2 linked regions of the Homo sapiens genome follow. The protein of the gene in region 2 interacts with the protein of the main gene of each other region in a pairwise test. Each region holds a gene or a part of one and is shown on either strand. Other genes may lie near its edges.

Region 1 (7,028 bases), on a different chromosome or scaffold from region 2:
ACTAGACAAGCTCTCAATGAAATCGAGTCACGTCACAAGGACATCATGAAGCTGGAGACCAGCATCCGAGAGTTGCATGAGATGTTCATGGACATGGCTATGTTTGTGGAGACTCAGGTAGTTACAGACTCTTGCATTCTCCAAGAGAGATATCAGTCATGTGTAAAATCTTACTGCATCCCACTCTGTCTAGTGGATGTATCTAGGAAAGCTGTTATTTTGGATCCACCAAATTCAGGTTAATTGCAGTGTTATATGTGATGCTGAAATGCTGGAAGCAGCTTTAACAGTTGAACTGTTAACAGGAAGGGACTGGTTCAGTTGATTAAATTATGGAGTGTTCATAGGTCAGCCTTTTAGGCAACCATAGGCAACCTAAACTTTGTTCATGGAGAATTCTTACTGAAATATGCAGATGTTTGTGCTAGAATTAAGAGAAAAGGGAGATACAAAGATCTTCTGTGTATGCCCGTACATATGTATGAGTACATAAACACAAACACATGGCACGAGCTTGGCTCCATAAAACAGTATCCACAGAAGGAAAGGCGTATATCAAACAGTGTAATGGCAGTGAGACTATGGGAATTTTAATCTTCTCTAAAAGTATTTATTTTCAGATTTTCTATAAGAAGCATATATTACAGTAATAACTAGGAGAAATGTCTGAAAGAATCAACCCCAAGTGGGGATACAATCTATGACACAGATGCAAGCTTGTGCCTGTTACACGGGGTTTCCCATCTGCCCAGTAACACAGATAGGGAGTGAAAGCAGGTGTGGAAAGGCCCTTCTGAGTGAACCGAAGAGTTAATGCAATTCTTAATAAATAGAAAACTCCTCTGGGAGGCTGAGGTGGGAGGATTGTTTATGCCCATGAGTTCAAGGCTGTGGTGAGCTATGATCATGCCACTACACTCCAGCCTGGGTGACAGAGTGAGACCCTGTCTCCAAAAAAAAAAAAAAAAAATACACACATATATATGTATGTATGTATATATTGAACTCTCCATGTAAAGTACGGGATGGATCACAGATCACATGCTCTGTGATGTGCATGGGTATGTTCACACTCGCTCTTTGTCTTTGAATAAGGTCTTCTCGTTATTTTTCAAATACCATGGAGATAAGACTCTGTTGCTGGTTAGGATTCAGCTGACCACCAGGTGAAGCGGAAGCATTTATATCAAACCATCCTAAGTAAATGGTTTCCTCACTTGTCCTGAGCCTGGTTTCGGATCTGTTTTGGCTGGAGTCATCCCCTAAGTAGGTTCACATCTGATGGGCTTATTTTCTGAGACTGCCTGGATTGTGTAAGGATAGGAATCCATCCACACACAGGATTGTTCCTGCCTGCTTCAGCAACCTTGTTAAGAAACACTGTATTTTGAAGAACTTTATAATGAGAATGTGTGTGAAAAACTCAGGCACCATGCCTATTTTTTTTTTTTTTTTTGAGACAGGGTCTTGCTCTGTTGCCCAGGTTGGAGTGCAGTGGTACAATCTTGGCTCACTGCAACCTCTGCCTCCTGGGCTCAAGCAGTTCTCCTACCTCAGCCTCCCGAGTAGCTGGGACCACAGGTTTGCACCACTACGCCCGGCTAATGTTTGTATGTATAAGCATTTGCTAGAGGAAACCAACAGCTACACAGAGGGCAGGGATGGGACGATCTTACTCCTTTTTGATTTTGGGGGCCCCGTTGCCATTCATTATATGGTAAGTGGAGTGTGGGGAGTCTGATTACCATTGGTTACTTATTTCCAGGAAGCATTCCAAAGGAAACCAGCTGGACAGAAAGAACGAGAGATGATTTCTGTAATTACTAAAGCTTTTGTAGTACCTTAGACTTCAATTGTAATTGCTCTATACCAAATGCATTGCATTAAGCTCCGTTAGAAAAATGGCTGCATCCCTGGCTTTGTTTCACTGTTTCCTTTTAGAAGTCTGTTGGTATTGCATTATATTGACTCATCTAATGCAAATGTGTGCATAGTCAGAGATTACTAGTAAGTTGAAGTTTGTGACTGAGTGAGTTAACTCTCCGTCATTCTTCAATGCTTTACGATTCACTGCTGCAGGTTGTGTCTGGACAGACAACCAGGTAATACGTTACCTCCCTCACACTTTGCTGAATTCACCTCTGTTTACATTTTGCTCATTAATGTAGTCAGCTGAGTGTCAGATGTGAGCTATGCTCAGTTTACTGATTTAAAGAAGTAGTTACAATTTTCTACTTTGTGGAAAAGATGTCATTCTTTGTATATTGTCTGTCTGTGCATAATGGTAAAATACTAGTTCAACCAAAAGCTGGCTGCCTCCCTTCACCCTGCCCATCTGTCGAAAGTGTCTGCGTGTTAAAGGTATCTCAGAATTGACTTGAGGTGCCTTTAATTATCAACATGGTGGCCCATTCCTTTTCATTCTTTTTAAAATATAAATTGAGTTTTGATTGCTTTGCACTGGCACATGTATAATGGCCTCATCTTTTATCTTTCTGTAAATGTGAAAAAAACCCTCAGTATCCATTACATGCACATCGTGTTTATATAAAACCTTTGTTCTATGGTTGTCTTAAAGATACATGATTAAGCCATTTGAAAATGTCTTCTAAGTTTGAAACTTTTTGTTTTAAGGGTGAAATGATCAACAACATAGAAAGAAATGTTATGAATGCCACAGACTATGTAGAACACGCTAAAGAAGAAACAAAAAAAGCTATCAAATATCAGAGCAAGGCAAGAAGGGTGAGTTTGGCTTCGAAGAATTAAGCTGCGTTTTTCTCTTCATTTGGTTTCAAGTTGTAATACATTGATGTAAGCCTGCCTAAAAGGTATTCCAAGAAATAATTAATTAATAAATGTTTTATTTTAAAATGGAAATAATTTTTTTTGCTAAAAATTTAAAAGGTTTATTAGATGAATTATTTGTAGTTCATCTTTTGTGTTCTAAGTAATTGAAACCCTAGGGCTGGGTGTGGTGGCACGCCTGTAATCCCAGCACTTTTTTTTTTTTTTTTTTGAATTGGAGTTTCGCTCTTGTTGCCCAGGCTAGTAGAGTGCAATGGAGTGATCTTGGCTCACTGCAACCTCCACCTCCCGGGTTCAAGTGATTCTCCTGCCTCAGTCTCCTGAGTAGCAGGGATTACAGGCACCCGCCACCATGCCAGGCTAATTTTGTATTTTCAGTAGAGAGAGGGTTTCACCATGTTGGCCAGGCTGGTCTTGAACTCGTGACCTCAAGTGATCCGCCCATCTCGGCCTTCCAAAGTGCTGGGATTACAGGCGTGAGGCACGGTGCCTGGCACCAAATTGTTGGCTACACATTTGATGCAGTGAACATTTATTTTTAATTTAGGTTATTCGTGACTTCTTGGTTTGGAGGAAAGAAGAGAATTATTTGAGACCGTGGACCTGCAGTCTTAGGTAGCACCCACTTAAAGGGATCCTCAAAAGAAGGGAACCCCTTTCACTCAAGATGCACAGACTTTGCATTAAAAAGGGTTCAGGGAACCCTGTGTGATTTTTTTGTTACGGGGCAAAAATTTAAAACTTACTCTCCTAACTTAGGCATTTTATGATAGTGCCCCTGACACTGGAGAGATTATGGGTTTTTCACATTGTCACCTCCTTGTGCTAATACACAGAGATGCTGATTTTCACCGTGTTAGGAAAAAATGGAGTGAGACGGTGTGTGTGGATGCACCTCCAGGCGATGGCCCTGAGACGCACCCCCGGGCTGCAGGCTCAGCCGCCAGGGCACACCCTCACTCACACCCCCGGGCTGCAGGCTCAGCCGCCAGGGCACACCCTCCGCTTTTCCTGGGTATGTCTAAGTATGCTCGTCATCTCTGAAATGCCAGACATGGTTTCTCATGTTATTTCATTTATTGCTTTGAAAAAATTGGCCCCTAATGTAAACTGAGGTGAAGAGATACCTGTATAAAGTGCTTAACTTAGTTCCAGGCCTAAGTCAGCTTTCATTAAAAACAGGCAGTCCTGTTCCTTTTCTCCATGACCTGAACACGTCAGTCTGGTGAAAACGATAGTGAAAGTTCGTTGGTTTTACAAAGGGGGAAGGTGGTGGGTGTGATACGTTTTCATTCTCCTCTGTGGATGAGCAAGCCTGGCTCTGTGAGGTGCTTGGGGTCTGTGCGGTAGCTGGCGTATAAACTCGTCAGAGACGTGATGCCTGTTTCAGAAATGACACTGTCTTTTTGATGAGATGCCTGCTAATGGAACCCTCCTGGCTTGTCTCCCTGTCCCCTTGCCGCTCAAATGCTTTGCTGCTGCCCCTGGCTCAGGTGTGGGTCGTCCCCACTCCTAGTGTCCTGCATTTATTCCCGCGGAGCCATGTGGCCCTCAGAGGGAGGCCAGGCAACGTTTGTAGAAGGGTTTTTTTTTTCTGTGTGCTATGTCAGGAGCAGTGAAGAAGTAACTGCCAAGAACATAAAAGAAGGAGCGAAAGGCCAAGTACTGAGTGTGTCGGGGCTTCATGACGAGGCAGTGGGGCTCTCCGTCACTGAGCTAGCAGGCCCGCACCTCTGTACATGCGGAAAACTAACTGCATGTCTCAGTCATCAGAAATGTGGCAAAATGACTTGGTCGTGCTGTCCCCATGGATGAAACCTGAAATAACAGTTACATAGCAGCTTATCGCCAAGTAGTCTGACCTTATTAAGTCACTCTCTCAAGAAGTCGCCCAACAGTATTAAGCAGTGTCCTGTAACTTAGCTTCTAAAGTGAGTTCTGATGGGTTGTTTTGCTTTATTTTATTTTATTTTTTTGAGATGGAGTCTTGCTCTGTTGCCCAGGCTGGAGTGCAGTGACACGATCCTGGCTCTCTGCAACCTCTGCCTCCTGGGTTCAAGTGATTCTCCTGCCACAGCCTCCTGAGTAGCTGGGATTGCAGACCCACGCCCGGCTGGTTTTTGTATTTTTAGTAGAGACAGGGTTTCGCCATGTTGGCCAGGCTGGTCTCAAACTCCTGACCTCAGGTGATCCATCCGCCTCGGACTCCCAAAGTGCTGAGATTACAGGCGTGAGCCACCACACCTGGCCAGGTCGTTTTATTTTAAATGAAGGATGTCTTTTAATGTGGCAATATGAAATTAACCATGCATGATATAATCAGCTTGCTTTTCTTTGACAGAAAAAGTGGATAATTATTGCTGTGTCAGTGGTTCTGGTTGCCATAATCGCTCTAATTATTGGCTTGTCAGTTGGCAAATGATGGTGTGGATAACGTCAGTGTGCATGCCTCTCTGCCAGGGTGGGAGTAAGTAACTCATCAACTAATTTACTTATTAACTTTTGCAATTAACCAATAATAGTATTTGCTTAATTGTAATAGACATAAAACTAATAAAAGCTTGCCAGCCACGCAGTACAGATAATGCCATCTAGTGATACATCTGCCTGTGTGCTGATTCGAGTGCCCAGCCACTGTGTTTACTGAGAACAAGCACAGGCTGGGCGGTAACTCATTTTTAAACCAAGGTCACCTTCTTATCCCGTTTTTAAAAGTGTTTTTGAGACAGGGTCTAGCTGTGTCACCCAGGCTGGAATGCAGTGGCGTGATCATGGCTCACTGCAGCCTCGACCTCCTGGGCTAAAACTGTCCTCCTACCTCAGCCTCCCGAGTAGCTGGGACTACAGACGTGCACCAGCACACTCGGCTAATTTTTAAAAAAATTATTTTTAGTAGAGACGAGAACTCTCTGTATTGCCCAGGCTGGTCTCGAATTCCTGGCCCTCAGCCTCCCAAAGTGCTGGGATTATACATAGACATGAGCCACTGTACTCAGCCTGAATCTTTTGTTTTTGATCTAAGACCATTAGCTCTTTACATGTAGTGGATCCTTCATTAAATGTCATAGAAATTCAGTGAAGATTAATTCTCAGTTGTAATGTTTTGTCTCCTGAGTTTTAGCTTTTAGAGTAATTGCAACACTGAAAGGTACTTTATAAAATACACTAACGCATCATTTTACTATGGAATCGAGGGCATGGATGAACGCTGAGAAAAACATTGACTGAAAGGAACATCCTTCGACCTTTCTATAGGCAGCATCTATTTTATTTAAAAATATTTCCTTTAATATTAAAAGGAAAATTACGTATTATATTTAGTTAGCATGCCTGTTAATTCTTAAAGAATTCTGAATATAAAAGGTATCAGTTTATTTAAAGAATCAAGGTGTGAGTGTCACCTTTCCTAAACTTCAGCAGGCTTTGTGGTTTCCCCCTGGTTTTCTTCTGCATTGGGAGCCATCCTTGCACTGGCCCTGAAGTGGCAATGCTGTCGGTGTGTTACAGGTGGACACAGCAGTGATTTCTCTGTAAATGTTTGGCACAATTCTTGTATTAGACAGTTGTGAACTGTTCCCAGGTGTCTAGAGTGTGGCAAGTCATCCCCAATGAATTTATTCTTGGGTTATGGAAGTGACTGCAGACTTGATAGTCACCCAAGGCTTTTTAAAAAGTTAACATACAGCAGAAAGGAATCACGAGCATGGTTAAGTCTCACTATTGCTTTGTAATCTTTAAGATTTATTCCTTCAACATGGCAACACCCTGTCTCTACAGAAAAAAAAAAATCCAAAAACTAATTGGGCATGGTGGCACACGTGCCTATAGTCCCAGCTACGCCAGAGGCCGAGGCAGGAGGATCACCTGAGCCTGGGGAGGTCGAGGCTAGAGTGAGTCTAGATCGCACCACGGCACTCCAGCCTGGGTGACAGAGCGAGACCATCTCAAAACAAGAGATTGATATCTTAATGTGAGCATCTGTTACGCTCACCATGCAGTTACCAGATGAGAAGTTTTCCAGTTAGTCTTCTGACATTTATGCAAAAGCCACAAAATTACACCTGAAATTACTCTGTAAGGAGCTCTGGGATGCTGCGTGTGTTAACATTCCATTATTTGGCAGTCAGAACTCTCTTACCGTCTATTTTTATTAGGCAGGATGTTTGTGTAGGATGTTTATTAGGCAAGATGTTCTATTTTTTTCTTCTTAGCTTTGCTGA
Region 2 (6,863 bases):
AAAGTCACGATGTCCATCATGCTGTAGCTCAATGAATGAGTCTCACATTGTTTCATGTTGTTTTATTTCTACTTTCTCAATCCATGTACAAGATAGATTTACAAACTACTGTTTTATGTTGGTTGTATGAATTTCAATACATTTACTGTTAGAAATAACAAAAGGTCTTAGACTGCCAGATGCTGTTCCCATCAACTCTACTTAATTCATAATATAGCTGAACTCTGTCATAAATCTAATAACGATGTGGACATTAGCCAGAAGTATGATGTGGCTGAACCTCACCACTGAACACAAAATGAGAATTCACCTCATCTTTTCATTTGAATTTATTTCTACTAAAATATATGTATTATTTTTCTTGATTTCTAACCAGGCCCCTTCTGAAGAAAACTGGTTAACTCTAAATTGTTACTAAATTTTGAATCTTCCTGTATTTAGCAATAAAAGTTACTGCTAATTGTAATAACAATTATGAGGAAAAATTTATTTAAATGCTTCATAGAAAGTTAATTTTCATTTAATAGAAAAGAAATAAAAAATCTGCTTCAGACTGTTTGATTTCTCTATTAGGCAATTGACCCTAACTAGTATATGGTGATTTTGAGTATTAAAAAAGAAGTTATAATTTTCCAGAATATTAATGTTTATTATTTTGAAAGCAAGTAAAATTCTCCAGTAGGAAGATTAATAAAACAATTCATTAAAATTCTCATCAGAAAATCCTATGCTTTCAAATGTATCTGCTCAAAGATGTCACTCTATGTGCGGCAAAGCTTTGTTTTACTTGATCAAGAAATGAATGTGACTTTATGATCTTGTATTCAACTGTGAACAGCTGCTCATTAATAAAAAGCCATTAAAGTCCAAGTCAGAACAGCAGGTCTAAAATTGTGTTTGAGGGAAAAAAAACCCACCCTTTGATGAAAAGCCAGGGAACTGGGTTGGGAAAGATCTGGAAGCAGAGGGCTGTGTTTGCAGTCTGCTCCTACCTCCTGGGCCAGGTCAGGTGACAAGGCCAGAGTTAGCCCCAGCTGGAGAAGTCAGAACAAAGCCTATGTAGGCTTTGAAAGGGGAGAGTAAGTGGTGGGCTGGAGGTTGATAGTGTGAATAAATCAAGCTGGTAATTGGGCAGAGGCTGATCAGAAGCGTTAAAGTGAGCAAAATGGTTTGGACACAGAGCAGACAGAATTTACTATATTCCATTGAGTAAAAGAAATTCATATGCCAGGTTCTATCCCTTATGTTCCTCCCATTTGACATCTGGTGGTTTCCTACCCCCGTCCCACACAAGCTTTGGGGAGAGGACAGGACTTAAAGTTCCCTGTTCCCAAGAGGTGGTCCCTAAACCCAATCCCAAATTATTGACTTGTGATCCCAATTATGGGCTTACTATTTAACAAGTAAAGATGATTTTAAAATATTATTTTATAGGTATTACTAAAGTAAATTTTAAATTTGCAGTCTTTAGCGAGCTTTGTTTTCTGTTTTGCTATTGTGTTGGGAAACAAGTACTCAGTAACTAGCTGTTTCTGGAAAAGTATATACATTTCGTTTTGTTTCATTTGGAAATGGCAAATTTAATAAAGAAAACTGAAGAATCAGGAAAAAGAAGAAAATATCCTTGGGCATAATAAATTGTCTAAAGCAATCAACTCTTTAAGAAAAAAAATTTAAACACGTTTATATCCGAATATAGGTTATTTTGGATTTTTTTTTTTTTTTTTTTTGAGTCAGGGTCCTGCTCTGTCTCCCAGGCTGGAGTGCAGGGCCCAATCATGGCTCACTGTAGTCTCGACCTCCCAGGCTCAGGTGATTCTTCCCACCTCAGCCTTCTGAGTAGCTGGGACTACAGGCATGCGCCACCAAACCTGGCTAATTTTTAAATTATTTGTAGAAACGGAGTTTCGCCCGTTGCCTGGGCTGGTCTTAAATTCCTGGGCTCAAGCGTTCCTCCTGCCTCGGCCTCCCAAAGTGCTGAGATTACAGGCATGAGTTACCGTGCCCAGCTAGATAACTCGATTTTTTAAATCCAAAAAAAATTTAGAAATTTTATATTGAAATTTAGGCATTAGAATTCTAGAGATTAAAGTTAGAGCAGGTGTTTAAGGGACTGAAAGGGGTTGCATGGCCTTTGGGAAATGCAATTACCGGAAATGATACTGTAGTAATGCAATAGTAATGCAGTAGTAGTAGTAGCTGCAGCAACAACTGTTATCTATGAATGTTTGCTATGTGCCAGGCTCTGTGCTAAGAGAGCTTTGCAAGCATTACTACTGCATGAAGTAGGCACTATTATGGCCATTTTACTGATGAGGAAATTGAGGTGAACAGATTAAATAATTTTACCCAACTTTACACAGAACCATTCCAGAGCACGAGCCATAAACACATCTTTCCCGTCTTGGAAATTAAATTATTAATAAAAAACGTGGTGCAAATTGGAAAGAGGACGGTTGTGGTAGATTATCACAAAGTTAAGTGGGTAGGTGGTTGCTGGGTCAGGGTGGGAGAACAAAGGCAGCTGTAATAAAAAAAAAAATTAAAGGCATATAAAGAAAAAGGCTTGTTGAGAACAATTTGCATAAACTGATTTTGGCCTTAGACCCTATTCACTTCTCCCTCACCAGTCACTTTGCAACTGTGGAGCATAGTATTCTGAGGGTCCCCTGCACATAACAACCCCTTTCATAGCATACAAGATAAAAAGAAGAATCAGGCTGCAAAGAGAGAAGCACTGAAGGAAAGAACATCTCAGGTTGAAAGAAGGGCAAGTCCAGGGTGCATGTGAGGAACAAATGCATGGACACGGTGAAGTGCCACTTCTTCATTTCTAGTTCAACACAATTCAATTAAAAATTACTGGGAGGAGGCTACGTCTTGAATTAAACTCAGCATTCCACATCTTTGAGGTGGCGGAATGACTGAGGGGAGGGGGTCTGTCTAGCCACATCCAAATCTTCCTGAGACAGAGGGAGATCCCTCATTTGTTGCAGTGTATTTTCCTTGGTCGCATCTGACACAGGGGTTCTGTGGGTTGAACAGAAAGGGACTTTGCTGGAGGGGAGGCACTCTGCATAGAAGGAAAGTAGGGACATCTGGCAGAAGCAGGCGCTCCGAGAATAAACAGTCAAAGCAGCTCGCAATAGTCCCAAAAAGCTACCCCTCACCGAACCTGGCGTGCCTGTCGCCGCTTGCCCCGCTCCCAGGGCTCATTGGCTCCCAGTCTCGACGTCAGACCCGTAGCCTCTCACCTATTGGGCCAGCCAGGACCTGAGGCGGAGTGCAGAAGCGAGGGCCTGGAGACAGCCGAGAGCCGCCTTCAAGGAGGGCTGGGGGCGGGGCTAGAGGAGGGGCTGGGGGCGGGTTTCCCGATGAAGGGGCGGCCATGGCAGCTGCGCAGAGGCAACGCAGGCTGCTACGGAGCGCGCGCCCGGCTTTGAATGAGCGGGGCTGGGAGTGAGCGGGCGGAGCGCGAGCTCGAGGAAGAGACAGGCAGCGCGCGTGAGCGCGCCTTGTGTGCGCGCGCGGCCCGCGGCAGCTCGGAGCCTCCGCCGGGCGGGCGGGGAGGGGGAGGGGCAGGTGAGTGTGTGCGGTTCGCGCGTGCCTGGGAGGGGCTTTCCTCTCCCTACCCCCATCCCGACCCCAGCCCTAGCCTCTGGGGCATTGTCTGCCCTTCGCCGTCGGCCCTCCGCCTAGCCGCGCACTTCCCGCCCTCCCACCTTCCTTTCGCCCTTCCACCAGACCTCCCTCGACGCCCGACAGCTGCTCTGGGTACTGTTTCCGGGTCAGGGTGACCTCTGGGGTGAGGAAACTGCGACTGGGAGCGGGACCCAGGCGTGCAGCATTCGCCATGCTCCGCTCACGCGTGGGAGACTGGGCTGTGGGGTACCGGCCCGGAAAGCACGCAGCCTCCAAAGCCGCCTTCCTCAGGGAAATTTGCGTGACCTTACTGCCCTCCGTCTACAGGCCTTGTACCTCTCCAGGCCGATTTTTCCACAATTTAAATCTCAGTTCACCTGGTATCCAGCTCCAGCAACTTAGAGCGTTTCACGTCACGCCGGGCGCCAGGCGTCGGCTTGTATAACCTGAAAACGCTCCTGTTTTTCTCATCTGTGCAGTGGGTATGATTTTTTTTTCATCAACAAATTTCACGTGGGTAATCTGAAATGAAACCACTTAAGTTATGAAACTCTTTCCTTTTGAGTTATTCTGGAGACCTTACTCCGCCTTCGGAACCGCCCCAGTGGTGTCACATACTTGAGGGCCTGACTCTCGGTTGCCAGACATGGCACAGAATGTTCGATTTTACTACCAGCTCTCACACTCCGCTTCTGTTTCCCCTTCTCTTACGGGCCGCTGCTCAAACCTTTATTTATCAAATTTAAGTGAGTTCAGGTAAATTTTATTTTGGGAGCTTTGTAATATTTTCTAACCCACTTCAGAGAGTTATAGTTTGAGGATATTCTGGACTGTACTAGATCATATGGTTTTCAAATTTTGGTATGAAAAGATTCGTAAATAGAGTTTTAGAAATACAGCACCTGTTTAGTATGTACCGAACATAGATTTTGGCTTTGCTTGTTTTGTGAATTGTGATGTATTGAGGCTACTTGAAAGGACCTCTAGCAGTTTACCGAGAATTTCAACAAGAAAAGATATAATACATTTGATCTATCAGTTTCTAATGTAGCATTCTTTTTTTAATTGTATTTTTTTTCCGTTAACATGGCAGAGCTCTCATTCTTGATTTCCTAGAGTTGTCATTTCTTCAAAAAGCCTTAATGAGGATACATTGCCTCATAGTTTTGAATCTCATTCTGATATACCTCAAATTTTTGTCTTTGTAATTTTTAAGGAAATTTAATGTTAAGATTAGATTATATTAACATTGTTCCGTTCTAGAAAGTGTTTTAAAGCAACTAAAGTGTAAAGTAGCGTAAGATACTTATCAAATTGGTGATCTAGAGGGCATTTCAAAAATCGCACTGAGGCAATGTGCACACAATTAAAAGGTTTCTTAAGTAGGATATGATGTAGGGAGAGCCTTGGGCTTTCGGGTCAGTCCCTTTAAATCCTGGGTAAGTGAATCTAAGTCTGTCAACCTCATCTATTAAACGGGAGTAGTGAAAAACCTACCTCTTTTGGTTGTCCTTAGGATTCCAGTGAGGTGATCGAACATTGTCTTGAGCGTTCAAGTGCTCAAGGAATGTTAGTTTCCTTCCATTCAACAAATATTTGAGTACCTACTATGTGCCCGGCTTTGACTGAGACCTATAAATACCAGAATGAGCAAGACTGATGGACGTCCTGCCTCCTTAGTTTCTTGCATTCCTCAGGGATAAGTTTATGGGCAAGCTCATGACAACTGGGAGTGAACGCAGAGTTTCCCCATGCGGAGTTGGTAGTATTTCCCAGCTTCCAAATCCAAAGTAGCGACTGAAACATAGTAGGTGCTAATATATATTCATTTAGATGAATAGGGACATTAAGTAAATACAGGTCTCAAAGGATATTCCTGCCTGCCAGTCAGTGTGATTGATAAAATCAAAGTGTGGCTTGATCGCATTTTCCCTATTTTAGTGCAACTGGTTGGAAAATTTATCTTGGAAGTGGTAGTATCACTGAATTATTAAGAATGTTCCTTGTTCATGAGATGTTCTTGGCTTTTGAATTAAATATACCTAGGTTTGAATGGAGTCACTGGATGTGCTTACTCTGTGTTTAATTCAATGAAACAAGGACAATAGTATCTATGTCATAAGATGGCTTTTTGAGTTGTGTGTTAACATTTTGATAGTGCATGGTTCATAGTAGACAGTCAATGAGTATCAGTTCTCCTCTTTTATTAATCACAAAAGGAAGTTTTCTGCAGAATGAGGATATTCTTGATTGCTAGGGAGAGAATTCTATTCTGTAATCACTAAAAGACCCAGTTTCTATTTTTTATTGGGAAAAAAAAAACAACCTTTAAATTTTACCTCCAGTTAGCATTGAAGTTATTCAAGTTGGCAAATATTTATAAAACAATGACACTAACAATATTTGGAAAGGTGATGGCTGTGGTTACTAGGGCAGTTTATGAAATTTATTCTCAACTTTTATTCATGTATATCCTAAAACTGACAGTCCCAAATGGTAAATATCATTTTTCTTCACAACATACTGATAGAGTATCTCCTTGATTCTATTTCCTTCCCTGCCAAGTACCACACGTTCTGTAGTCTCTTTTCTGGCTCTTTTTTCTTATAATTTTTCAGAAAATTTAGGCTAATTTTCATTTGAGAAAGTTTTCTTTTGATTGAGAGTTTTGTTCTTGACAAATCAGCTTTAAATGAAGTGATTGTTCACCATCATAATTTTTCAGATCATTCTACTCATAATGAAGCAATCAAACTTTTTTTTCAAGTCTTACTTTGCAAATGGTAACTGAAGGTACCAAATGAATAAAATACTCTAGAGAAGGGTTGTACAGGGCAAAGTAAGGTATAGAAATAACCATAATACAAAATAAAAAATGTTGTTTCTTGGGAAGAGTAAAATACTAGAATTAAGAAGACTTTACAGTACTCCAGCAAGAGGTAGTAAAGGCTTATGCTAGATAGATTACAGTGGAAATAGGAAAGAATATGGGCAGTACTGGGAAATTGAATAGGGTCTTTTTGGCAATTAGGTGTAAGGAGAAAGAAAGGAGGAGTCAGCATTGTTGCATGATTTGAACTTGAGTAAACCACTGGTTGGGATGTTTTTGACAGAAGTATTTAAATAACTCGAGTACAATTTTTAATATTCTGGTTCTTTTTTTTTTTTTTTTTTTTTTTTTTTTTTTAACAGTCACTGTTCTTTTCATCCTGTCAATTAGT

The links.
Region 1: the proteins of EBAG9 (region 2) and STX2 interact in binary tests that used the Homo sapiens proteins (3 or more experiments, as listed by UniProt).

Annotation. Positions count from the first base shown.
Region 1 is NC_000012.12:130,794,242-130,801,269, reverse strand, and holds part of STX2 (syntaxin-2), read left to right. Parts: coding exon 1-117; intron 118-2,079; exon of another isoform or gene 2,080-2,102; intron 2,103-2,634; coding exon 2,635-2,745; coding exon of another isoform or gene 2,746-2,769; exon of another isoform or gene 2,770-2,880; intron 2,881-3,355; coding exon of another isoform or gene 3,356-3,427; exon of another isoform or gene 3,428-3,510; intron 3,511-5,149; coding exon 5,150-5,230; 3' UTR 5,231-5,275; intron 5,276-7,028.
Region 2 is NC_000008.11:109,536,338-109,543,200, forward strand, and holds the start of EBAG9 (receptor-binding cancer antigen expressed on SiSo cells), read left to right. Parts: upstream 1-3,835; 5' UTR 3,836-4,124; exon of another isoform or gene 4,125-4,388; intron 4,389-6,863. Other genes in the region: EBAG9UORF (uncharacterized protein LOC139907707), read left to right, coding at 3,389-3,463. UniProt on the Homo sapiens protein: May participate in suppression of cell proliferation and induces apoptotic cell death through activation of interleukin-1-beta converting enzyme (ICE)-like proteases.